Homo sapiens: one gene and its partners. The protein of the gene in region 1 purifies or fractionates together with the protein of each later gene. This does not show direct contact. Each region holds a gene or a part of one and is shown in the gene's direction. Other genes may lie near its edges.

Region 1 (3,234 bases):
CAGCCAAAGGGACTCCAGATAGGAGAGGTCATCTTAGAAACTCTGCTCCAGAAATTCCCAGTGAGAAAATCTAGAAAGAAGAAAATGAATGAGGGAGTAATGGAAGTGCTTTATTCTTTCGGTTTTTCTAAACTTAGAAAGTATTTAAAACATCCTTGCAAGTGTATTTTCAGGTTTCCTTTCCTCTTGACTTGCATGTGCAAGGCAGGTGGTTCTAACGTTCCCAGAGCTGAGACTCTGTCCATCTTCCCCCAGCCCAGAGACAGGCTGATTTCCAACGTCCTCCAGGGGCTGCCGAGCCAGAGCCCAAGGACGGGGGCCTACAGAGGAGGTAATTCTGCCCAAAGACCTCAGACTCCCACCCATCCCAACAGCCACCTCACTGTCCCCTTACACTCCCGTATCCTCCCCCAGGTCCAGCCCAGCTGCTGACGTCCAGGGAGAAAACTTCTGTGAGTGAGAGGCAGAGAAGGTGCACCTGGGGTGGAGCTGGGGGTCCCAAAATTTCAATAGCAATGGGGGCAGGAGCACAGGCTAGGATTGGTCAGGGACTCAGGGAGAAGTGGTCTGAACCCACATTGTGGGACCTCGGGGACATCACAGCCCCTCCCTGCGTTGCAGTGGCACTAATGGGAACAGGGCAGGGACCAGCAGGAATGAGAGGTCCCAGGGAACCTTCCCAGGAGATGAACCCCTTGCTCTACCCCAGCAGGTGCTGCCGTGAAGAACACACAGCCTGAGGACGGGGTGGAAATGGACACTCGGGTGAGAACCCGCCCCTGTCCCCGGCACCAAAGGCCTCCTGGTGCCAGATCTAATCCTGCAGGACTTCTCTGTCCTCCTTCCCCCGGCTCTCAGCATCGTCACGGTGGACCCCTCCTTGTCCAGCACGCTGCCTCCTGCCTGCTGGGACCTCACTCTCTCCTGCTGTCCTGGGACCTCATGGGCCTCCTCCCGGGTCCCCTTCCTGCTCCTCATCCTCTGTTTGGCCATCTGGTTGTTAGAGAGCTCCCCAGGCCTCAGGAGGATGACGAATAAATGAACCACTCCAGTCCCCTGGGCTCCCCTTCATTCATTCATCTAGTGAGTGTTCCCAGGGAGCTCACTGTGGATGGGGCTCCCCATGGGAGCTGCAGACACAGCAGGGAGCAAAGCCGCCCCCGCCTCCTGAGCTCACCTCGTGGTGGGAGACAAAATGCAAATAAATGCATCGTGTCCAGGAGTGCAACGTGCTGTAAGGAACATAAACCAGGTAAAGGGCAGAGAGTGTGGGGCAGTGGGGCCAGTCTGAATGGAAAGGGAGGGCTGTCTGCTCAGCTGTCATCTGAGAAGCCTGGACGGAGAGGGCCACGTGATCCTCTAATGGACGAGCCCCTGCAGGCAGAGGAAACAGCCGTGCAAAGGCCCCGAGGCAGCAGCGAGCTCTTGCAGGAAGGCCGCGTGAGGCTGCAGCCAAATGGGCAAGGTCAGAGTGAGGAGCAGAGACCAGAACCACAGGGAGGGAGCGGCCAGACCCTCCACGGCCTTAGGGCATCCCTGAGATTCCGTCAGGAAAGGGATGTAATCGGATCACCCTGGGAACAGTGGGGAAAATTGACTCCAGGGAGTCAGGAGGATTCAAGGACACCCCCCACCACTGTCTCTCTCCAGCAGAGCCCACACGATGAAGACCCCCAGGCAGTGACGTATGCCAAGGTGAAACACTCCAGACCTAGGAGAGAAATGGCCTCTCCTCCCTCCCCACTGTCTGGGGAATTCCTGGACACAAAGGACAGACAGGCAGAAGAGGACAGACAGATGGACACTGAGGTGAGTCCTTTCCTCTCCAGGCCCCCAGGCCTCCCCCACCCCCACCACGTTCCTTCCCTCTCACTCTCCCCCGCTGCAGGCTGCTGCATCTGAAGCCCCCCAGGATGTGACCTACGCCCGGCTGCACAGCTTTACCCTCAGACAGAAGGCAACTGAGCCTCCTCCATCCCAGGAAGGGGCCTCTCCAGCTGAGCCCAGTGTCTATGCCACTCTGGCCATCCACTAATCCAGGGGGGACCCAGACCCCACAAGCCATGGAGACTCAGGACCCCAGAAGGCATGGAAGCTGCCTCCAGTAGACATCACTGAACCCCAGCCAGCCCAGACCCCTGACACAGACCACTAGAAGATTCCGGGAACGTTGGGAGTCACCTGATTCTGCAAAGATAAATAATATCCCTGCATTATCAAAATAAAGTAGCAGACCTCTCAATTCACAATGAGTTAACTGATAAAACAAAACAGAAGTCAGACAATGTTTTAAATTGAATGATCATGTAAATATTACACATCAAACCAATGACATGGGAAAATGGGAGCTTCTAATGAGGACAAACAAAAAATAGAGAAAAATTAATAAAGTCAAAATGTTTATTCTTGAAAACATTAATGATACATGAATCTTGGCCACAATGAGAAAAATAAAAATGAAAAAAGAGCAGGCATCCATTTCCATACAGGAACAAAATAGGAGGCAGCACTACAGACCCTACACACAGCTTTACAGAGGTGAAAGAAAACTGTCAGCAATTCTATGCTGACATAACAGAAAATGTAGATGAGATAGATGAAATACGAAAAATTACAGTTTACTTAATGAACATAAGGATAAATAGAAAAACTGAATCATCATACATAAACATATATAAAATGCATTGATCCTGTAATCAAAAATGTTCCCACAAAGTAAATGCCACTTCAGCAAGGTTTGTTGGTGGTTTTTTCAAACTCTTATGCACTCATGAAACACACAGACACACACACACACAAACTTGCATAAATTTTCCCTGAGAATATTTTGTATATATTTACACAAATACATTTGATCAGACTAGGAACAAGTTGATACCAAAACCTGAAAAGGAAACTACAGAATGGGAAAGTCATAGAAGATCTCTCACAGAAATATAAATCCCTTAACAAATATTAACAAGTAAGATTCATGTCTCTATAAAATAGACAGTATATCATGACCACACTGGTTTTTTGTTATCCTTTGATTTTGTTTATGAAAAGCAAGGATAGCTTAATTTTCAAAAACTCAATCAATGTAATTCAGTATTTTAACAAAAGGAATGAAAAATTATCATCTCAATAGACAAAGCTTTTGTCTGAGCACCTTTTCATATAGCTGCTGACCATTTGTATGTCTTCTTTTGAGAAATGCCTGTTCAGCTACTTTGCCCATGTTTCAAGTAGTTTTTG
Region 2 (3,500 bases), on another chromosome or scaffold:
ACCCATCCATGGAGCCACACTGAATGTCTTCTCCCAACATTCAGATACAACCAAACCACACCACCTGTTGTCATCATCAACACACACAGGCCAAGTTTCCACTGAGTACTCAGCATGGTACTAGACCCTGATGAAAAAATGGCCATACTTGTACAAGACAGACAAGTGAACGATGAGGCAATTGAGTGTCTTGAGTCGAATGAGAAGTGCCCTACTAAAGCTTTTCCCAACTTATTCCATGAAACTACTTCTACTGCTACTGCTCACTTCCTTTTTTTTTTTTTTTTTTTTTTTTGAGATGGAGTTTTGCTCTTGTTGCCCAGGCTGGAGTGCAATGGCACGATCTCAGCTCACTGCAACCTCTGCCTCCCAGGTTCAAGCAATTCTCCTGCCTCAGCCTCCTGAGTAGCTGGGATTACAGGCATGTGCCACCACACCCAGCTAATTTTGTATTTTTAGTAGAGACAGGGTTTCTCCATGTTGGTCAGGCTGGTCTTGAGCTCCTGACCTCAGGCGATCTGCCCGCCGTGGCCTCCCAAAGTGCTGGGATTACAGGCATGAGCCACCATGCCCGGCACTCACTTCCATTTTTTGAGTCCTTACTAGGTGTGAGGTACCATGCTAAGCACTTTGTGTGAATTAGTTCAATCAGTGCTCATAACTCTTTATGATATGGGTCATTTTAATATTAATTTTGCAGAAGTGAAAACTAAATAGTGATGCAGCCAAATTCAAACACAAAGCAGGCGGGTCTCCTATTACCTATTATGCTATAAAAAAGGCGTTCTGTGGTGAAGTTAGTTTTGGTAGTAAGAAATTCATGATCACATTAGCCTATTAAAGGCTCTGCAGAGTCCTCCAAAAAAGGGGGAACCTGTTAGACTTCGTTTAACCTTTTTTTTTTTTTTTTTTGAGACAGGGTCTTGCTCTGTCACCCAGGCTGGAGTGCAGGGGCGCAATCTTGGCTCATTGCAACCTCTGCCACCTGGGCTCAAGCGATCCTCCTGTGTAGCTGGGACTACAGTCGTGCACCACCACACCTGGCTAATTTTTGTAATTTCTGTAGAGACAGGGTTTTGCCATGTTGCCCAGGCTGGTCTCAACTCCTGGGCTCAAGCGATCTGCCCACCTCAGCCTCCCAAAGTGCTTGGATGACAGGTGTGAGCTGCCGTGCCTGGCCCCAATTTTGTTTACCTCTTGAGTTTTCTGAATTTATTTCACCATATTGCCCCTCCCTTCCTTTGACGAGCACAGTATGGGAAAACTTGTACAAGACATGGAAATGGGCTTCTGGAAGGAGAAAGTCAGCTTGTCAATGATGAGCAGGATTAGGGCAGGAGGGTCCCCTGCCTCCTCACAGGGTCACCGTGTAAGCAAACTCCTGCGGCAGAAGTGAACCAAGTTGGAGGCAGGGAAAGGGCAGAAAAAGGAATATTCTGGCAAGAAGAGGGGCATAAGAGAAAGCTGAAAGATGAGACTGGAAGAACTGTAGGTTGTAGAGGACATAGGTGCCTTACCAAAAGTTCTTCAGAAGGAACTAGTCCCTGAAAGCTCATGAGTGTTTTAGATGAACTGAGTTTTAGAAAGAGCACTGGAATATATGGTGGGCTTAAAAGGGCATAGAGATGAAGGTACAGGACTGAACCTCTAAGAGTTGGACTATGATGGTGGCAATGGGGGTGATGGATGGATGGATTTGGCAAAGGTTAGGGAGAAAGGACCCACAGGATTCAAGGGATAATTGGATATGAGGTAGGGATAGGGAATGAGGGGAGAGCTACCAGGATTCTCAGGTAGACATCAGCCTTCTGAGTCTGGGTGATAGGATAGTGATGAGATCATTGCCCATACAGAAGCTAATTGAAGAAGCATTTGGTTTCAGACATGTTGAATCTTAAGGGCCAGTAGGCAGAGCCAACTGGAAATAATCAGCAAGTGTCTAGAGCTTCAGGACTCAAAGAGTTTGAGAGAGATTTTTTGATCTGGGCTTTTATAATTTGATAGTCATAAAATTAGAGGGAACATTAAGTGTTGGGTATAACCCAACCCTCCATTTTATGGAAAAGAATCATGGGAAAAGAGACCAAGCGACTTGCTTAGTAGGCAGGACCAAAGCCTTCAATTACCAGATATGGGTTCTGCAGGGAGGTGGGACTGCTGGCCAGTATCTTGAAAGAAAACTGGAAAGAGAAGCACCAACAACCATGTTGCCCTGTGCCTCCCAGACCCCTCCTGGACCCTAATCACCCCTACACCAGGTGGACTACACTCCTTTATAGCCTCCCGGCCCCAAACATCCATGTTAGTTTTGGGGACCTTATCAGTCATCACCCAGACCCTTCAGTGTTTTAGATCAATACAAGGATTCCAAGAACGGTCGCTTATTCCTGAAGATGAGGTGGGAGCCATCTTCAGGAATGGGGATAGTGGGGAGGCAGTTCTGGGCTACCTTCACAGCAGCTCCAAAACTCCTGTCCTGACAGCCTCTTCCACCCTAGCTGCCTTGAATGGGGCTATTAGGAGGGTAAGTCTACAAAGCCAGGGCCACCTCCCCTGGCCATCTTCATAACCTCCTATCCAGAGTTATAGAGTAAGACAAAGCACTGCCAAAGTCTTGGAGGATGGGAAGGAGCTTAGAGACTCATCAGCAGGGCCCTGGGCTTAGCTGTTTTCACCCCTGGCCTCCAGGGACCCTGAGTCTGCACCCTCCACAACTCCTAATTTCTGGTTGGCAGGAAAATCTGTGGCAGTCCCAAGTGGGTATTTGGGTGGCTGGCTGGTTGTGCCAAGTGCCAAGTTGAGATTGCCAGGTTCCAGGGCTGATCGTTAACCTGTGGCAGGCATACAGGGCTGCTGGCTGGGAGCAGCCTGTCACGGTTCCACTCCCCCGACCCCCAGTCCCCAGTCCAAGCCTCCAAGTCTGGCTCCTCATGCCAGCAGCCCTCCCAGAAGCTCCTTCCTATTTCCTGGAAGGAGTCTCCCTTTGAGACCAGCTTTCCTAATCCCTAATGGGTGCCATGCCCTCTCCCCATGTCCAGGCTCCTGGCAGAGCCCTACCCTCTCCAGTGAATATTCTATTTCCTGATCGGGAGGACTGGGGAGTTTCCATTGTTCTGCTTTGTCCCCTTCCCCCAGGTGCCCTGGTTTGTTATCAGGCTCCTCCCTTTTTTTCCACTCCCAGGCCTCTCTGGAGGGGAGTGAAGTGGGGATGGGGGGCTGAGTGGGAGGGGCGACAGCAGGGAGTCTTCAGACTGCTGCAACATCACAAACCAGGGATGAGGAACACAGGATAAGAAAAGAAAGGTTGTTCCCTCATTTGGAAGGAGGCAGTGGCAAGAGCAGTGAGACAGGTGAGGAGCTGGAGTTTGGAGGGTGCTGTTTGGAAATGAGGGAACTAACTGTTGTGGTATTGGTGAGCTGTTTGGGAGTTAGGAGTCTGCTTCTTTTAGGAAGCTGTTCTAGAAACTGCAGGCTATGCTGGTGTTTAGAGGCTGAGCTGG
Region 3 (3,500 bases), on another chromosome or scaffold:
GCCAGCGCGGGGAGCAGGCAGCACTGAGGCCCAGGCGCACAGGAGACCATGCCATGTGCCCAAGGCATGCCCCGTCACACTGCATTCCTGGGGCCTCCCTCCTGCCATGAAAGTCATTTGCATGCCAGGCACTGTTGAGGAGCTGGGGGTTCAGCAGCACCTATAGGCCGATCTGCTTCCCCTCGTGTTGCTGACTGCTGGGTGAGGGGAGAGGGTGATAAATAAGGAAACACTCCACTGTCTGAGGGTGCCCGGCCCTCAGAGACCATCCATCCAGAAGGTGCAGATTTCAACAGGGCGGCTGCAGGAGGGTGTGAGGGTGCCGGGTGCGGGGAGCTGGAGCTCTGCTGAGTGGGCATCTGGAGCCTAGGGCCTGGGGACACGGGTGGCTGCACCTTGGCCTCACTGTGTCTTTCCTCGCAAAGAGGAGAGGGCAGCCCATTCCCCCAGAATGTGTTCTCTGCTTCTAGGGTCCCTATCTCAGCCCCATCCCGGGGTTTCCTCAGTGTCAGGAGAAACCCCCGCATCTCTGTGTCTACAGCCTCTCTGGTGCCAGGTCTGCACCAGTCACTTCGCCTCCACCCTTCTTGCCAGGAATCTTCCGAACCAGGTGGCAGCTCAGGTGTCGGCAGCTGGGGATGGGGTTACACACCCCGGAGACGGACACGCCTGGCTTGTGACAGGACAGCTGCTTGCCAGTGAGCTGGGGAAAGTCACAGCCCCTGCCTCCTGCCCTGGGAGCCCCTCCCCACGGGAGGAACTGCCTGGGGGCTGTTCAGAGTCACTAAGGACACAGGTTGTGGAATCAGACAGACCTGGCTTTGAACACTGCCTTTATCCTTATTAGCTGTACAGACAAGTATATAAGCCTTCTGTGCCTCAGTTTCCTCACCAGGAAAATGGGTTAGTCACCACTTCCCTGGGCTGTTGCTGGGAGGCGAGTTGCCCATGCCTGGCTGGGGCTGGGCACTCAGGATCCTTATCATCATAGCTGCTGTCGTGAGCAATATTCTGCCTCTGGGGGCATGACACTCTCAGCCATGGCTTCTCACAGTTGGTGGATACGAGTTTGTTCAAGGAAGGAGCTGAGGCCTGGGGGCCACTGGCTGGGCAGCCCTCAGGATCAGGCCCACCAGAGCCTCTGTGCATTTCCTCAGGTCGTGGTTCCTTGAGATGGGACCGCAGCTCCTCCCCGACTACAGGGAGCAGGGCTCAGGGCAGCCCCAGGACACCTGCCTGGGAGGGTCCAGTACAATGGGCCCTGTGTGTGAAAGGGGGTCAGCATCGTGCTAGGGGCCGGGGGCGGCCCAGAGGCTGCCTGGCCCAGCCCCGCAGTCCCCTAGCTCCCATCTGAGGTCCCACCAGGTAGGGCCCCCCAGCTTCCCGGGCTGGCTTTTCTCACAGAGGAAATTCCACAGTAGACCCTAATTGGATGTCCTCTGCTCCGGTGTTGGGTGGGAGAGTGCAGTGGTGTCTGGGGAGAAGGCGCAGGAGCGCTGCACTGTCCTGCAAGCCGGCTCCCTGCCCTTCAAGGCCTGCCTGGCTTAGGCCAGCCTGTGGCTCAGGAGCCCAGCTGCCCTGGCTGAGGCTGGGGGCTGCGTGTCCCATCTCAGTGTCTGCATCTGTCGAGGCCCTGTCCCTCCCGCCCATGGCCTGGACAGCTCTTCTCAGGTCACAAACATTGGTGGTGGGGGACAGAGGTTTAGCAGACCTGTTCCCTGCATGAGAAATACCCCATGCCCCACGGAGCCAGGGCCGGGTTGTAGTGATGGTACCGCCGTGAGCCCTCCTCGAGAGCACAGTCACGTCCAGGAAGCCTACTCGGAAAAGGAGGCAGTAGCCGGGGCGGGGGGGGAGGGGTGAGACTGCCATAGGTGGAGCGGGAGGGATGCTGAGATTCTGGCCTTGGTCAAGTGTGAAGGTGCCACTTGCGCAGCTCCGGGTGACAGCTGCAGACCCCACTCCTGCCTTCCTCCGCCCCTGGCTGGGCTGCAGGTGGCAGCAGGAGCTTGACACAGTTTGACAGGGTGAGGCCCCACCCAGGAGAGGGGCAGCCTATGGGGCAGTGGGCCACAGGCCCTGGGCTTTGCCTAAGTTTCCTGGGAATGCCTCCCAGGAGAGTGGGGACAATGTGATGTGCACCCTTCATGGGGTGCCGCAAAGGCCAGGTGGGCCCCAGCCGGGGGCTCCAGTCTCAGCTGCTTTTCCCCAAGGGGAGATGGGGCCGGAGGACACCACACTGGGCCATGACCTGGGGCTCAGGGCACCACATCTGCCAGGAGAGTCAAGTCGTGCAGGTTTTGGGCAGGATGGCCTCCCGGAGCCATAGCCCAGCTTTGGTCCTTGTCCCCTGACTCCTGGAGCTCTTGGTGTTCACTGTAGTTCCAGCTGCACCGATCAGGCACAGGGAAGTCCTTCAGAAGCTTAGGTTGAGGGGATTCCTGTCTCCCCCATCGCTCCACTGGCCTTGAACCCAGGCAGAATCCTGTTCAGTATTGTGCTTCTCCCCCTTGGGGTGGTGTCTCCTGGGGTGGCTGCCTGGGGCTCTAAACACTGCTCCTTTGTCCCTCACAGGCCATCAGCATCAGCAAAGCCATCAACACCCAGGAGGCCCCCGTGAAGGAGAAGCACGCCCGGCGTATCCTTGGCCGGCTCTTGGACCCAGGAGTTGGGTGTGGATGTGGGAGCAGCGTAGTGCTGCAGGTGGCCTGCGGTCAGCTGTGCCGGGGTCACAAGTTCCCTCACTGAGCCCGGGGAGGAGGGTCCTGTGCAGCTTGGCTCCTTCCCATCTCAGTCTCATCACAAAAACGCCCCCATTGGGCCCAATGATTTCCTTGTCTTGCCCTAACTCCTGTCCCCTTGGCTGGACACTGGAGCTCTGGTGACCCGGGGTTGATGGGCACGTGATTGGGGGCCGGCCCTCTTCCGGCGGCCCTGGCCTCTCTCAGCCGGGTTTGCTGAGCCCCCGTGCTCCAGTCTCTGCTTCCACACTTGGCCTTGACATTGCAGGCATCATTCTGGGCACACACCACGAGAAGGGGGCTTTCACCTTCTGGTCCTACGCCATTGGGCTGCCGCTGCCCAGCAGCTCCATTCTCAGCTGGAAGTTCTGCCACGTCCTCCACAAGGTCCTTCGAGACGGGCACCCCAATGTGAGTAGCAGCTGCTGCCTCTGCTCCCCGGAGCTGGGGCACTGTCCCGCGGACATGCGGGCTCTGGCCCTGTTCCTGTCCCCGTAGCTCCGGGCTGTTCCTCCCGCCTCGGGTGGGGAGTGCGTGTCTCAGGGCCCTGCCACACGGTCCTGGACACTCCCCCACTCCCGTATTCCCTGCGCTGCAGGTGCTGCATGACTGCCAGCGGTACCGCAGCAACATCCGGGAGATTGGAGACCTGTGGGTAGGTCCAGCCATTCTAGGTCCTGCCTGGCATTCGGGGCTTTCCTGAGCGTGTGGGGCTGAGCGAAGGGTGGCTCCCTGTGGGCAGTTCCCTGCGGGTGGCTG
Region 4 (3,500 bases), on another chromosome or scaffold:
TGGTGGGCACTGAGGGACACTGAGGCACTGCGGACAAAAGGCCCAGCCCAGCTTCACTCCCCCTTACTCCCATGCCTCAGTTTCCCTGGTGGCATGGAGATCACAGAATACTTATCTCTGGGGAGGGGTGTGAGGGTTCCGTGGGTGAATCCACATCCATAGGAGGCTCTCCGTCCACACAGCTTCTGTTATGATCATTTCCTTCGTCACCAGCCTCCCATGCAGTGGCAGCACCTGGCACTCACAGCCCCACTGGCTTCTTCCACCATGCCCGCCTCTGTGACCCTCGGCTCCTTTGCTCCCTCCTCTCCCCACCTGAATCCTCCCAAGTCCTGTCCCTTTTGAGAAGCTCCTGGAGTCATGAGCGCTCTACTGAGGCTGTGGCTGCCTGGACGTGGTTATAGCGATTGTCCACAGACTTCAGTTTTTGCCCAGGTTCCACCCGCTTGCCCTATGAAGTCTGTGGTGGAGCTGCCATGAGCCACATGCTCCTGCCTCCCTCCCGGTCTCTCAGCCTGCAGCAGTGCATGAGCGTCCTGGTGCCCTCAAGCAACAGAAATGGATTCTCCCCCAGTTCTGGAGGCCGGAAGTCCAAAAGCAGGGCGTGGGCAGGGCCGAAGCGCCTCCAAAGCATCTCAGAGAGGATGCATCCTGCATCCTCCAGCTTCTGGTGGTGGCTGCCAGTCCTCGCGTTCCTCAGCTTGCAGCTGACCCTCTCTAATCTCTGCCTGTTGTCACACGCCCTTCTCCCTGTGTGTCTGTGTTCTCACACGGGGCACTCCTCTCTGATAAGGACCCCAGTCCTTGACTAAGCCCCCAATCCAGTGTGACCAGCGCTGTTCCTTGTTGTTCTCTCCCCACCTCCACCTCATCTCTGCCCACCCCCTGCCTAGGTGCACCAACATCTTGAACAGCAATGGCGAACTCCGGGGCTTTCGGCCTCGGGACCGGGACGACATGGTGAGGAAGATCATCGAGCCGATGGCTTGCGATGGCCTCCGCACCATCTGCATCGCCTACCGGGACTTCTCTGCAGGCCAGGAGCCCGACTGGGACAACGAGAATGAGGTCGTGGGTGACCTCACCTGCATAGCTGTCGTGGGCATTGAGGACCCTGTGCGGCCCGAGGTAGCCACCACCTTCTCTGTGAGCTGCCCTGGTAACTGTGCCCTCTGCCCGAGCTTGTCCGGACTGGTAGGGGCGGCCTTCCTTCACACACAGCTGCTGCGGTCCCTCCGTAGTACACTTGAGCCCCGTCCTGGGTGCTCTCACCCTGACACCCGCACAAAGGCTCTGTCCTGCCTGCTGGAAAGCCCTTCCCGCTTGACCTATGGGCCCAGCTCAGGCTCCACCTTCTACCAGGTGAGAAGGTGGCAGTGGCGGAGAGACCGTCGACATTTGGGATCTGATCCACCCAGGACCGATGGACTGGAGGTGGTGCTGAAGCCTGAGGGGACACAGGTTTGGGGCACAGGGTGGGCGTTTATTGGTTGAGGGTTTGGCTGGGGCTACTCTACGGTCAGGACGTCCTGTGGCGAGCTCACAGCAAAGGTCCTGGCGGGAAAGGGAGCCCAGAAGCATATCCCCATATGGACGATGCCACCAGGGGAGTCCAGATGAGGGGACCTCGAGGGCCGCGTGGCAGATGCCATGGCCTTGACACTGGGAAGTCACTTTGTTGTTGAAAGATCCCAGACCCTGGAGAGTGTGGAGGATGGCCGGCCCCGGAGGGAGAATGCAAGGCATGGGGTGCCCCTCTGTCTCCCCAGGGCCTCTGCATGGCACCCACCTGTGTCACAAGCAGGGCCACTGTGACCCTGACAACTTGTCTTTGTAGGAGCCACCCTGGGGGTGCAGGTGCAACCTGGGAGGAGAAGCTTCTGGGCTCTCCTTCGGGAGACAGGCATTCATGTATTGGATCATGTAGCAAAAACACTCAATTCAAAGACAGTGCGTCTAAACGCCAGCCATGGCTCATGTCAACAGAGCAGCCCCGTGCCCCGAGGAGAACATGGTCACTGCGCCCAGAGAGGGAGCACCTCGAGCTTGCCCTGGGAGAAAATGGGTGGTAGCGGAGGACAGGGGACAGAAGTCCAGCGAGGGAAATGGGCCCCGCAAAGGCGGGCAGCGGCATGAGTCCCGGGCCCCACTGAGCCTGGGAGAGCAGAAGGAGAGGGTGCTGGTGAGGCGAAGCAAGGCCACACTTGGGGACAGGAGCCATCGAGTCCCTCTGTTGGACCAGGGAGCAACTGAAGCACAGAGCAGAGGAAGGAATCTTGCCAGAGGGGCCTGGGGAATAGGGACAGCTCCTTTCCAGCTTAAGAGTGGCTGAGAGAGAGTCCAAGGGGTAGACCACAGTGACAGGGCCAGGCTGCGGAGGCTGGGCAGACCCCCACAAAGACTGGCCAGCCTGGTGGTGGCTGAGGAGGACGCACAGAAGGCCCAGCGAAGTCCTGGGTGCCGGCAACAGGCAGTAGGACACAAGGGCCTCACTGAAACCGCCAGGGTGCTTGGAGATGCGGCACGGCTGCAGCCAGAGGAGGGCCCGTGAGGCTGGGCCCTGGGGAGCCATAGGAAGCCTGTGGCTGGGGTGGTATTGATGCTGGAGCTGGGCCGGCCGGGGGCACTGGCAACTTCTCCAGACACCTGGCTGGCTGCTGTGCTGTGGGGCCTTGGGGAGAAGGCAGGGAGCAGGGCTGAGCAGGCGAGGAAGGACAGCCTGGCCTGGCCCTTTGGGGCCATGGGGAAGGAACTGGGCTACACACACTGGGCCTGAGGAGGGAGGAGGCCTGGGTTCGCAGCTGCTGGTTTTCAGGCTCGTCACGGCCACTTGGTGGCAGCAGAGGGGTGGCTTCCAGACTTTTCAGGGACAGGCATTCGCTGGCTCAAAGGAGAATTGTCTTCTTGTGGCTCGTGATCTTGTTATCCAGCACCCCAAGATCCTCAGAGAGTACGAAGTGTCCCCGAGGCTGGCAGTGAGGCCACTTAGTGGTATATGCTGCAGGAACCATTGGATCACCCTGTCACAGCTTAGAGTGGGGCCCCCAGCTGTCTCCCTGGCAAAGATCACAGCCCCCCTGCCCATGGCCTCAGGGGGCGCCAGGATTCAGGGACTCCCAGGTCAATGTCCTCCCCTGGTGTCTCCCGGCTGCCCTACCCCTGGCTCCCACTCCTGCGTGTCTACTCCCCACCGCCGCAGGCTCCCCAGGCCTGGCGGCTCGGCCACACCTAGGCTTCTACACTTACCCGACGGTGCTCACAAGCCCCACTGCCTAGGCTTGACCTCCTCATTCAGGTTCCCAAACTCTGAACCTGGCTCCTCTTCTCCTCTCCCCCTGCCCGTCTACCTCAGTGGCATCAGCTGCCTGACCCTGTCTCTCTGTCCCCGAGCCTGAAGAGCCACATACCTCTTCATTTGGGAACTGTCTTCCCTGTCCCCCCACCACTGGGACAATGCCACCACCTCCCGGCCAGTCTCCTGGCTTCCCGCTCTCAACCCC
Region 5 (3,500 bases), on another chromosome or scaffold:
ATTAACGGCCACCTTCTTTGTCTGTGTTTTTAGGGTATTTCTCAAGCTGCCAGATACGTTTACCAACGACTCATCAACGACGGGATTTTGAGCCAAGCCTTCAGCATTGCTCCTGTGAGATCTTAGTTAACGTTTCTTTCCTTGTCCTCTTTGGAGCTGTTGTTTTTACCCTTCACCTCATTCTGCTGTCTGTCCTCTAGGAGTACCGGCTGGTCATAGTGGGCCACAGCCTCGGGGGCGGGGCGGCCGCCCTGCTGGCCACCATGCTCAGAGCCGCCTACCCGCAGGTCAGGTGCTACGCCTTCTCCCCACCCCGGGGGCTGTGGAGGTGAGCCTTTGTTTTCCTGCTCTAACAGCTTGCTACTTACAAGTCATGTGGTCAAGACTCATCTTTTTTTTCTTTTATTTTCCTGAGATGAAGTCTTGCTCTGTCGCCCAGGCTGGAGTGCAGTGGCGTGATCTCGGCTCACTGCAAGCTCCACCTCCCAGGTTCAGGCGGTTCTTCTGCCTCAGCCTCCCGAGTTGCTGGGACTACAGACACCCGCCAGCATGCCGGCTAATTTTTGTATTTTTAGTAGTGGTGGGGTTTCACCATGTTGGCCAGGCTGGTCTTGATCTCCTGACCTCAAGTGATCTGCCCGCCTCGGCCTCCCAAAGTGCAGGGATTACAGGCGTGAGCCACCGCACCCAGCTGAGGTTTGTGTTTTGAAGCGCTATTTCACAGAAGAAAGTCTGTCTAGCCTTTCTTAGACCTATGTGACCATACCTGTAATTTCCTCAATGATTTAATTCTAAGAGTCTTTTTTCAAACAGACTTTATTTTTTAGAGCAGTTTTAGGCTGACAGCAAAACTGAGCAGCAGATTGTAGGGATCTCTCATACCCTCCCTCCCCACAAGCAAGCACAACCTCCCCCATTCTCACAGCCCTGGCAGAGGGGTCCGGTTGTTGACATCCATGCGCCTGGTAGGCACATCGCCCAGAGCCCGTAGTATGCTGAGCACTCCCTCCGCCCTCTCGGGGGGCATATGCCCTGGGTGGGGACACATGCATAATGCACATGTTTAAAGACATTTTTATGAGTTTGAAAATTACTTTTTTTTTTTTTTTTGAGACGGAGTCTTGCTCTGTCGCCCAGGCTGGAGTGCAGTGGCGTGATCTCGGCTCACTGCAACCTCCGTCTCCCAGCTTCAAGCGATTCTCCTGCCTCAGCCTCCCGAGTAGCTGGGACTACAGGCGCCCGCCACCACACCCGGCTAATTTTTTGTATTTTTTTAGTAGAGACGGGTTTCACCGTGTTAGCCAGGATGGTCTCGATCTCCTGTCTTCTGACCTCATGATCCGCCACCTTGGCCTCCCAAAATGGTGGGATTACAGGCATGAGCCACCACGCCTGGCTGAAAAGTTTATATTTTTTTTTGCTGATTCCAGCATACTGACTGTTCTGTGTAACCTTTTGCCATGATTATAAAGGAAAATTATACCACTTTATTTCATTAAAATGAAATAAAGGCCAGGCGTGGTGGCTCATGCCTGTAATCCCGGCCCTTTGGGATGATTAAAAAGTATGTACGTAAAGAACAAAAAGAGCTTTTCTTCGCACACTTGGTTTCTTTGACATATAGTTCACACAGGAAAAAACAGGAGAATGTATAAGTGCTTAAATCTTTCCCTCAATAAAGAAGTGTTCAGAATAATGAATTGTTGCCTAGCAGTCTACAGAGGCAGACATTAATTTTTTAAAACTTAAATTTCAGTCGTCTGTTTTCTTGCTGTCTTTTTTTTTTTTTTAATTGACACAGAGTGTCACTCAGTCTCCCCAGCTGGAGTGCAGCAGCACAGTCATGGCTTGCTGTAGCCTCTGCCTCCTGTGCTCAGGTGATCTTCCGGCCTCAGCCTCCCAAGTAGCTGGGACCATAGGCGCACACCACCACATCCAGCTAATTTTTGTAAGGAACAGGGTCTTGCTATGTTGCCCAGGCTGGTCTTGAACTCCTGGGCTCAAGTGATCCTCCTGCCTCACCCTCCCAAAGTGCTAGGATTAAAGGTGTTGAGCACTGTGCCTGGCCTCATTTTCTTGCTTTCTCAAGAATATTCTCAAGTTTTGGGCTTGAAATGAGCAAGTATTTTTTTTTTCCATCGTCCATATCTGGAATCAACCGTTTCTCCAAGGAATATTGGTTCCTTTTAGCAGGAAATGGTATTTCTGAACTGAAATCGGGGCACTGGTAGTTCTCATTACCACAGGGCTGGTCATAATTTCCAGGCCTTTTCATTGGAAAGAGGTAGGAAAGGCTTTTGTTACACCAAAGAGAAAATGTAACTGTAGTGTATAGTGATACTTAAACATCAGGAGGCTGGGCATGTTGGGTCACACCTGTAACCCCAGCGCTTTGGGAGGCTGAGGCAGGAGGATCACTTGAGCCCAGGAGATCGAGACCAGCCTGGGCAACATAGACCCGGTTCCTTACAAAAATTAGCTGGACGTGGTGACGTGTGCCTGTGGTCCCAGCTACCCGGGAGGCTGAGGCAGTAGGATTGCCTGAACCCAGGATGAAGAGGTTGCCGTGAGCCGAGATCGTGCCACTGCACTCCAGTCTGGGTGACAGAGCTACACTCCGTCTCAAAAGAAAAAAAAAAAAAATTGGCCGGGTGTGGTGGCTCACACCTGTAATCCCAGCACTTTGGGAGGCCAAGGCCGGCAGATCATGAGGTCAGGAGATCAAGACCATCCTGGCTAACACGGTGAAACCCTATCTCTACTAAAAATACAAAAAATTAGCTGGGCGTGGTGGTGGGCGCCTGTAGTCCCAGCTGCTTGGGAGGCTGAGGCAGGAGAATGGCGTGAACCTGGGAGATGGAGGTTGCAGTGAGCTGAGATTGTGCCGCTGCACTCCAGCCTGGGAGACAGAGCGAGACTCCATCTCAAAAACAAAAAAGTCCTTTCTGTCACCCCAGAGGTAGAATGTGGTGGTTTTGACTGGTGTTTCCATTATGTCCATGGCTGGAAGGAAGCGTGTCTGTGTTCCTCTCCTCCTGTTGATGAAAGCCTGCACCTTTTCCCTGCTCTTCTGTCTCTGGTCGTGGCTGTTCACTTTCACCGCATGTCCTGAGATGACCCCGCAGTGGCACACACAGTCCTCCTCCTTCTCCCAGCTGTGCGGGACGCACTATTATGTGACTCGTTGTTGGGAGCTGAAGGCAGTTCTGTGGATGGGTGTTTGGAGGCTCCAGCCTCTGCCGGTGCAGGTTCTGCCGCAGTGAATCGCCTGTTGCCTCTGCCCCTTCATTTTTGCTGGGGCATCTTTTTTTTTTTTTTTTCTTTTGAGATGGAGTCTCGCTCTGTCGCCCAGGCTGGAGTGCAGTGGCGCGATCTCAGTTCACTGCCAGCTCCGCCTCCCGGGTTCATGCCATTCTCCTACCTCAGCCTCCTGAGTAGCTGGGACTACAGGCGCCCACCACCACGCCTGGCTAATTTTTTGTATTTTTAGTAGAGACGGG
Region 6 (4,105 bases), on another chromosome or scaffold:
TTAAGAAAACAGATAATAGGCTGTTTCGAATAGAGTATGAGTATGGGTGAGCACTGCAAAATAGTAGAATAAATTGTTGAGTTGGATCTCATTTGGTAATGCATTTGAAATAAAGGGATTTGCTTTGAACCAAGACTGGTTCTAAGCCTGGAACTACAGAATAAGTTCCAAAATTGGGTGTCTAAGAACTCTGAATACCTCTCCAATATTTACCAGTGGTCAAGTCAAACTCGTTTTGCTCATTAATGGTATAAGTCGGCTGGAGCTGAGAATTGGCATTATAGAGAATGTTTTTGAGACAGAGTCTTGCTCTGTCACCCAGGATGGACTTCAGTGGCATGATCTCAACTCACTGCAACCTCTGCCTCCTGAGTTAAGTGATTCTGCTGCCTCAACCTCCCGAGTAGCTGGCGTTACAGGTACCCGCCACCATGCCTGGATAATTTTTATTTTTTTTAGTAGAGATGGCTTGCACCATGTTGGACAGGCTAGTCTCAAACTCCTGACCTCATGTGTTCTTCCCACCTTGGCCTCCCAAAGTGCTGGGATCACAGGTCACTGCACCCAGCCTAGAGTATTTAATATACATTCATATAAAAAAGAAGCACTGGTTTCATAAAACAAATGTACATTATATGAGATTCCACTTCATAAAAGCATGTATGTGTACCCCAACACTAAATTGGCCCTTTTAACAAAATATCAGACTTTGTCCTACTTAACTGGAAAGATTATCTATATTTTATAAAGAAGAGAAATAACATAATAGTAAGGCTGTGATTTCCTCTTTTTTGCAAAAACTATTTTTGAAAAGTATTACTGAATTGATAACATATATATGGAGAGATTTAAAATACTAGATAAGGGAGCTTATTCCAATGAATTTACAGAAAGGTAGGTATTTTAGTCAACTAAAAATATAAATAAAAATTATCAATTCACTTATTTGGATACAGCAGTCATGCCAGAGTTTATAAATATAGTGAAATCACTGAAGATTTTTTTTTACCCCCAAAACTGAAAAAAATGGCAGTGTACCTTGTGAATTTTTTAAATGAAAAAAGAATACGAAATGATGAAGGCCCTTATCTGATGATGACAAACTAGAAAACTGAAATGTAAAGGGGAAAATGTGAGTATGTGTTTCCCTCCAGCAAATTAAAGACAGGGTACATAGATTCAAGAGGTTGCGCTTTGAGGATAAAAAGCTGGGCCCTGTGCAGTTTTCCAAGACAACCTCTGGGCGCCGCTGTCGACCAAAAGGAAGTGAAGGCTTCTCAATTCTGCAGGAGCGTCAGGCAGGGTGCCTTCCTGCTTTGTCCGGTGCACTGAGCACAGACGCTGCTCCTGTTCACCCTCGAGCGCCTAACTAATAAGTCCTAAGCTCAAATCACAGAAGTCCAGGGTGCTGCCATTTCTTTTTGAAAAACATCCCAGAGGAAAGAAGCTCCGCGGAGAGTTCCTGAAATGCAGAGAGCCAGAGAAGCCGAAATGATGAAAAGTCAGGTACTGTTTCCCTTCCTGCTGTCTTTGTTCTGCGGGGCCATCTCCCAGCAGATCCGATACACGATTCCAGAGGAGCTAGCCAACGGCTCACGGGTGGGGAAACTTGCCAAGGATCTGGGGCTCAGTGTCCGGGAGTTGCCAACTCGAAAACTGCGGGTTAGTGCAGAGGATTATTTCAACGTTAGTTTGGAGAGCGGGGATTTGTTAGTGAACGGTAGGATAGATCGAGAGAAGATTTGCGGAAGGAAACTTGAGTGTGCACTAGAATTCGAAACGGTCGCTGAAAACCCAATGAATGTTTTCCACGTGGTTGTTGTAATCCAAGATATTAATGACAATGCACCACGTTTCGTTGCAAAAGGCATTGACTTAGAAATTTGTGAGTCAGCCTTACCCGGGGTAAAATTCTCTCTGGATTCTGCTCAAGATGCAGATGTGGAAGGCAATTCACTGAAGTTATACACCATCAACCCCAATCAATACTTCTCTCTGTCAACGAAGGAAAGTCCTGATGGAAGTAAATATCCGGTATTACTGCTGGAAAAACCTCTAGACAGGGAACATCAGAGCTCTCATCGCTTAATCCTGACTGCCATGGATGGCGGGGACCCGCCTCTAAGCGGCACCACCCATATCTGGATCCGAGTTACGGATGCCAATGATAATGCTCCCGTGTTTAGCCAGGAGGTATACAGGGTTAGCCTCCAAGAAAACGTACCGTGGGGAACCTCCGTGCTGCGGGTGATGGCCACAGACCAGGATGAGGGCATTAATGCAGAGATCACCTATGCCTTCCTCAATTCCCCAATAAGTACCAGCCTCTTCAATCTCAATCCAAATACTGGCGACATCACAACCAATGGCACATTGGATTTTGAAGAGACAAGTAGATATGTGTTGAGTGTGGAAGCTAAGGATGGAGGAGTACACACAGCTCACTGTAATGTTCAAATAGAAATTGTTGACGAGAATGACAATGCCCCAGAGGTGACATTCATGTCCTTCTCTAACCAGATTCCAGAGGATTCAGACCTTGGAACTGTAATAGCCCTCATAAAAGTGCGAGACAAGGATTCTGGGCAAAATGGCATGGTGACATGCTATACTCAGGAAGAAGTTCCTTTCAAATTAGAATCCACCTCGAAGAATTATTACAAGCTGGTGATTGCTGGAGCCCTAAACCGGGAGCAGACAGCAGACTACAACGTCACAATCATAGCCACCGACAAGGGCAAACCAGCCCTTTCCTCCAGGACAAGCATCACCCTGCACATCTCCGACATCAACGACAATGCACCTGTTTTCCATCAGGCCTCCTATGTGGTCCACGTGTCTGAGAACAACCCACCTGGCGCCTCCATTGCACAAGTAAGCGCCTCCGACCCGGATTTGGGACCCAACGGCAGAGTCTCCTACTCTATTCTGGCCAGTGACCTGGAGCCGCGGGAGCTGTTGTCCTACGTGTCCGTGAGCCCGCAGAGCGGGGTGGTGTTCGCGCAGCGCGCCTTCGACCACGAGCAGCTGCGCGCCTTCGAGCTCACACTGCAGGCCAGGGACCAGGGCTCCCCCGCGCTCAGCGCCAACGTGAGCCTGCGCGTGTTGGTGGGCGACCTCAATGACAATGCGCCACGGGTGCTGTACCCCGCGCTGGGGCCTGATGGCTCCGCCCTCTTCGATATGGTGCCACGCGCCGCAGAGCCCGGCTACCTGGTGACCAAGGTGGTGGCGGTGGACGCAGACTCAGGACACAACGCTTGGCTGTCCTACCACGTGCTGCAGGCCAGCGAGCCCGGGCTCTTCAGCCTGGGGTTGCGCACGGGTGAGGTGCGCACAGCGCGTGCCTTGGGCGACAGGGACGCGGCCCGCCAGCGCCTGCTGGTCGCTGTGCGTGATGGAGGACAGCCGCCACTCTCCGCCACCGCCACGCTGCACCTAATCTTCGCGGATAGCCTGCAAGAGGTATTGCCAGACCTCAGCGACCGCCCTGAGCCCTCTGACCCCCAGACGGAACTGCAGTTTTACCTGGTTGTGGCCTTGGCCTTGATCTCAGTGCTCTTTCTCCTCGCGGTGATTCTAGCGATCGCCCTGCGCCTGCGACGTTCCTCCAGCCTCGACACTGAGGGCTGCTTTCAAACCGGTCTCTGCTCCAAGTCTGGGCCCGGGGTTCCTCCCAACCACAGCGAGGGGACTTTGCCCTATTCCTACAATCTATGTATTGCCTCTCATTCTGCAAAGACAGAGTTTAATTCTCTCAACCTGACACCGGAAATGGCTCCCCCTCAGGATCTGCTGTGTGATGATCCTTCTATGGTTGTATGTGCCAGTAATGAAGATCACAAAATCGCTTATGACCCTTCTTTGTCTTCGCACGTGAGTTTCTGCAAATCTAGTTAAATTTTATATATGGCGGCCGGGCGCGGTGGCTCAAGCCTGTAATCCCAGCACTTAACCAGGCTGAGGCAGGTGGATCACTTGAGGTCAGGAGTTTGAGACCAGCATAGCCAAGATGGTAAAACCCGGTCTACTAAAATTACAAAAATTAGTTGGGTGTGGTGGCACGCGCCTGTAGTCCCAGTTACTCAGGAAGCTGAGACAGGAG
Region 7 (3,500 bases), on another chromosome or scaffold:
CCATCTCTACTAAAAATACAAAAATTAGCTGGGCGTGGTGGCACGTGCCTGTAGTCCCAGCTACGTGGGAGGCTGAGGCAGGAGAATCGCTTGAACCCGGGAGGCGGAGGTTGCAGTGAGCTGAGATCGTGCCACTGCACTCCAGCCTGGTGACAGAGCAAGATTCCATCTCAAAAAAAAAAAAAAAAAAAAATTTAGAACAGCACCTGGCATATGATAAATGTATATTTAAGTGCTGGCCACTTAGATAAGAGTAACTGTGAGGACTATCTGATATGCACATTTGGCCATGTACTGGATTCTCAATAATTGGTATCTCTAAATAATAATAACAAAAATAATAATTTTTTTTTTGAGAGGGAGTCTCACTGTGTCACCCAGCCTGGAGTGCAGTGGCGCCATCTCGGTTTACTGCAACCTCCACCTCCTGGGTTCAAACGATTCTCCTGCCTCAGCCTCCCAAGTAGCTGGGACTACAGGCATGCACCACCATGCCCAACTACTTTTTTTGTATTTTTAGTAGAGACAGGGTTTCGCCATATTGGCCACGCTGGTCTCAAACTCCTGATCTCAGGTGGTCTGTCCGCCTCGGCCTACCAAAGTGCTGGGATTACAGGCCTGAGCAACTGTGCCCGGCCTATTTTTTTATTTTTGCTGCTGAGAAGGGGATATTGTTCTTGTTCTGGAAGAGGATGGGGGAGAGAAGATGATGGATTATAACCTGGTGTTGGTACACTGTCAGTATTATTTATTCATCAAACAAAGTGTATGCCAGTCCCTGAGGATGCAGGAAGGAGCTCAGAGCCTATCTGGAGCAAAAAACATTTGATATCAGGGCCTGGAGAGAAGGACTAAGAAAATGCTTTGGGGATTCAGAGGAGGGGAATCTGGGAAGACTGCCTGGAAGAGGAAGCATCTGAGCTCAGATGGGAAAATACAGAGTAGGAATGCAGAGGGCGGAAGGGAGGGCATCAGTAAGCCGATGGATGTGGGGATGCTCAGAGTGGGTTTGAGGCAATGTGGGTGGATTCATTTGACTGATGGGACCAGAGAGTAGGTCAGGAGGTCTTGAGAATTAGACTGGAGAGGGAATTTGGGCCTGGTTCTTGGAAAACCTACGTGGAGGAGCTGTTATTCAGGCTGAAGCTGAGGACTCCTACTGCCACTATTTCCCTAGTCACTGATTTCTCCTGGACCTGGACTGGGGTGGAGGCAGGTTCTGGGCTCATCCGGCCTCTCCTCTCCTCACAGGAAGGTGTATGATTTTCTCTCCACGTTCATCACCTCAGGGATGCGCTTCCTCCTCAACCAGCAGGTGTGGGCAGCGACAGGTCGCAGGGTGGCAAGGGTGGGCATGCTCTCACTTTGAGAAGGCCCTGACTCTGGCTCCCACCTCGCAGATCTGCCCTGTCCTCTACCACGCAGGGACGGTCCTGCTCAACTCCCTCCTGGACACCGTGCCTGGTGAGTTGGTGGCGGGTGAGTCTGGGTGTGCAGCTGTCATGCAGCACCTCAGAGCAGGCCCCTTCCGAGCCCTGCTGTTGAACAGTCCTGGGTTCAAATGTGGCCCCTGGAGCTGACTTGTTGTGCGATTTTGGGTGAAGTGCTCATTTCTGTCTGGGCAAAGTGCTTGTTTCCTCACTTGGCTGGCAGTGCCTCCTCCTGGGGTTGCTGTGAGGATTATCTGAGAGAATAGTTGTCAAGGTCCTCAATATGTGCATGCTGATCACTGGCATCCCATTTGTCTTCATCACCTAGCATCTAATAGGTGCTCAATTAACATGAATTCCCTTTTTCTTTTTCTTTCTTTTTTTTTTTTTTTTGCACGGAGTCTTACAGTCTCACTCTGTTGCCAGGCTGGAGTCCAGTGGCGCGATCTCAGCTCACTGCAATCTCCACCTCCCGGGTTCAAGCAATTCTCCTGCCTCAGCATCTCGAGTAGCTGGGACTACAGGCGTGCACCACCATGCCCAACTAGTTTTTTGTGTTTTAGTAGAGACGGGGTTTCACCATGTTGGCCGGGATGGTCTCGATCTCCTGACCTCCTGATCTGCCCACCTTGGCCTCCCAAAGTGCTGGGATTATAGGCATGAGCCACTGTGCCTGGCCATGAATTCCCTTTTTCTAAGCCATGACCTCTGTCTACTGTGGGGCAAAGGTATTTTCCCATCACACCTAACACACAGGCATGGGAAGCGAAGGAGGAGGTAGGAGAAACCAAGGGAAAGGAACCTCATGCCATCTTTTTTTTTTTTTTTTTTTTTTGAGATGGAGTCTCGCTCTGTCACCCAGGCTGGAGTGCAGTGGTGCAATCCTGGCTCCCTGCAACCTCCACCTCCCAGGATCAAGCGATTCTCCTGCCTCAGCCTCCTGAGTAGCTGGGATTACAGGCGCCCACCACCATGCCCAACTAATTTTTGTATTTTTAGTAGAGACGGGGTTTCACCGTGGTGGACCAGGCTGGTCTCGAACACCTGACCTCAGGTGATCCGCCCGCCTTGACCTCCCTAAGTGCTGGGATTACAGGTGTGAGCCACCATGCGCGGCCCCCCCATGCCATCTTGTTTAGTTATTTTTTTGAAACCTCTATAGTGGTAGTAATAATAATAACTAACATTAATGAGCACCTAACTACACACCAGGCCCTAAGTGCTTTCCACATAAAACTAATTTGACCCTCATGACAACCCTGTGAAGGATGTATCCTCATTTTATGGGTGGGCCTCTGAGCCTGGAGAGGTTAAGCACCTTATCCCACATCACACAGCCGTGAGTGACTTGAGCCCCTTCCTGCAGTGCGCAGTTCTGTGGACGAGCTTGTTGGCATTGACTATTCCCTCATGAAGGATCCTGTGGCTTCCACCAGCAACCTGGACATGGACTTCCGGGTGAGCTGCTTGGGCTGGTGTATGACCTCTGACTTCCTAACAAGACCTCTTTCTCTGCTAAGTTGCAAGATTTTACTTCTTAAAGCACAGCTCTGATGAGGCCACTCCCATTACTGAGAATGCTATGGCTCCCTGTTACTACAGAATTAGGTTCAGCCTCCTGGGTCTGGCATTTGAGCCCCTGTTAATCTTACCTGGCCCCACCTTTTATATCTCATCCTGTTTCTTTGCAGCTGCTCTTTCCCAAATTGGACCCTGGCTTCCCACCTCAGGGCCTTTGCTCATGCACGGCCTTTCCCCAACTCCCCCGAAGGAGCTGGACATAAATTTCTATACAAATAATCTCATTTCATTCTCTCACAACCCTGTGAGTCAGGTACTAACATCATCCTAATTTTAGGAATGTGGAGACTTACTCATAGAGGTGACGTCACTTGCCCAAGGCCACATAGCCAGTGTGTAGCCACTACCTTTGGTCTCCCAGAGGAGTATAGCAGTTTCAGAGTGCAGACTCGGGAGCTAGAATCAGTCGGGTGCAGTGGCTCATGCCTGTAATCCCAATACTTTGGGAGGCCCAGGCGAGAGGATCGCTTGAGCCCAGGAGTTTGAGAC

The links.
Region 2: the proteins of LILRB4 (region 1) and PCDH1 purify together in Homo sapiens (affinity purification with mass spectrometry; one large-scale study listed by BioGRID and IntAct). This does not show direct contact.
Region 3: the proteins of LILRB4 (region 1) and HIP1R purify together in Homo sapiens (co-immunoprecipitation; one large-scale study listed by IntAct). This does not show direct contact.
Region 4: the proteins of LILRB4 (region 1) and ATP2B3 purify together in Homo sapiens (affinity purification with mass spectrometry; 2 studies listed by BioGRID and IntAct, with this or other methods). This does not show direct contact.
Region 5: the proteins of LILRB4 (region 1) and DAGLB purify together in Homo sapiens (co-immunoprecipitation; one large-scale study listed by IntAct). This does not show direct contact.
Region 6: the proteins of LILRB4 (region 1) and PCDHGB1 purify together in Homo sapiens (co-immunoprecipitation; one large-scale study listed by IntAct). This does not show direct contact.
Region 7: the proteins of LILRB4 (region 1) and PLTP purify together in Homo sapiens (co-immunoprecipitation; one large-scale study listed by IntAct). This does not show direct contact.

What each region holds. Positions count from the first base shown.
Region 1 is NC_000019.10:54,665,985-54,669,218, forward strand, and holds the end of LILRB4 (leukocyte immunoglobulin-like receptor subfamily B member 4 isoform 1 precursor), read left to right. Parts: intron 1-255; coding exon 256-331; intron 332-414; coding exon 415-452; coding exon of another isoform or gene 453-460; exon of another isoform or gene 461-472; intron 473-709; coding exon of another isoform or gene 710-712; coding exon 713-765; intron 766-1,650; coding exon 1,651-1,809; intron 1,810-1,888; coding exon 1,889-2,035; 3' UTR 2,036-2,734; downstream 2,735-3,234. UniProt on the Homo sapiens protein: Inhibitory receptor involved in the down-regulation of the immune response and the development of immune tolerance. Receptor for FN1. Receptor for apolipoprotein APOE. Receptor for ALCAM/CD166.
Region 2 is NC_000005.10:141,857,911-141,861,410, reverse strand, and holds part of PCDH1 (protocadherin-1 isoform 2 precursor), read left to right. Parts: intron 1-3,500. UniProt on the Homo sapiens protein: May be involved in cell-cell interaction processes and in cell adhesion.
Region 3 is NC_000012.12:122,845,457-122,848,956, forward strand, and holds part of HIP1R (huntingtin-interacting protein 1-related protein), read left to right. Parts: intron 1-2,574; coding exon 2,575-2,638; intron 2,639-3,009; coding exon 3,010-3,152; intron 3,153-3,339; coding exon 3,340-3,396; intron 3,397-3,500. UniProt on the Homo sapiens protein: Component of clathrin-coated pits and vesicles, that may link the endocytic machinery to the actin cytoskeleton. Binds 3-phosphoinositides (via ENTH domain).
Region 4 is NC_000023.11:153,552,142-153,555,641, forward strand, and holds part of ATP2B3 (plasma membrane calcium-transporting ATPase 3), read left to right. Parts: intron 1-893; coding exon 894-1,128; intron 1,129-3,500. UniProt on the Homo sapiens protein: ATP-driven Ca(2+) ion pump involved in the maintenance of basal intracellular Ca(2+) levels at the presynaptic terminals. Uses ATP as an energy source to transport cytosolic Ca(2+) ions across the plasma membrane to the extracellular compartment.
Region 5 is NC_000007.14:6,413,455-6,416,954, reverse strand, and holds part of DAGLB (diacylglycerol lipase-beta), read left to right. Parts: intron 1-33; coding exon 34-114; intron 115-200; coding exon 201-328; intron 329-3,500.
Region 6 is NC_000005.10:141,348,794-141,352,898, forward strand, and holds the start of PCDHGB1 (protocadherin gamma-B1 isoform 1 precursor), read left to right. Parts: upstream 1-1,305; 5' UTR 1,306-1,467; coding exon 1,468-3,876; coding exon of another isoform or gene 3,877-3,900; intron 3,901-4,105. UniProt on the Homo sapiens protein: Potential calcium-dependent cell-adhesion protein. May be involved in the establishment and maintenance of specific neuronal connections in the brain.
Region 7 is NC_000020.11:45,905,656-45,909,155, reverse strand, and holds part of PLTP (phospholipid transfer protein isoform a precursor), read left to right. Parts: intron 1-1,251; coding exon 1,252-1,315; intron 1,316-1,400; coding exon 1,401-1,464; intron 1,465-2,796; coding exon 2,797-2,888; intron 2,889-3,500. UniProt on the Homo sapiens protein: Mediates the transfer of phospholipids and free cholesterol from triglyceride-rich lipoproteins (low density lipoproteins or LDL and very low density lipoproteins or VLDL) into high-density lipoproteins (HDL) as well as the exchange of phospholipids between triglyceride-rich lipoproteins themselves.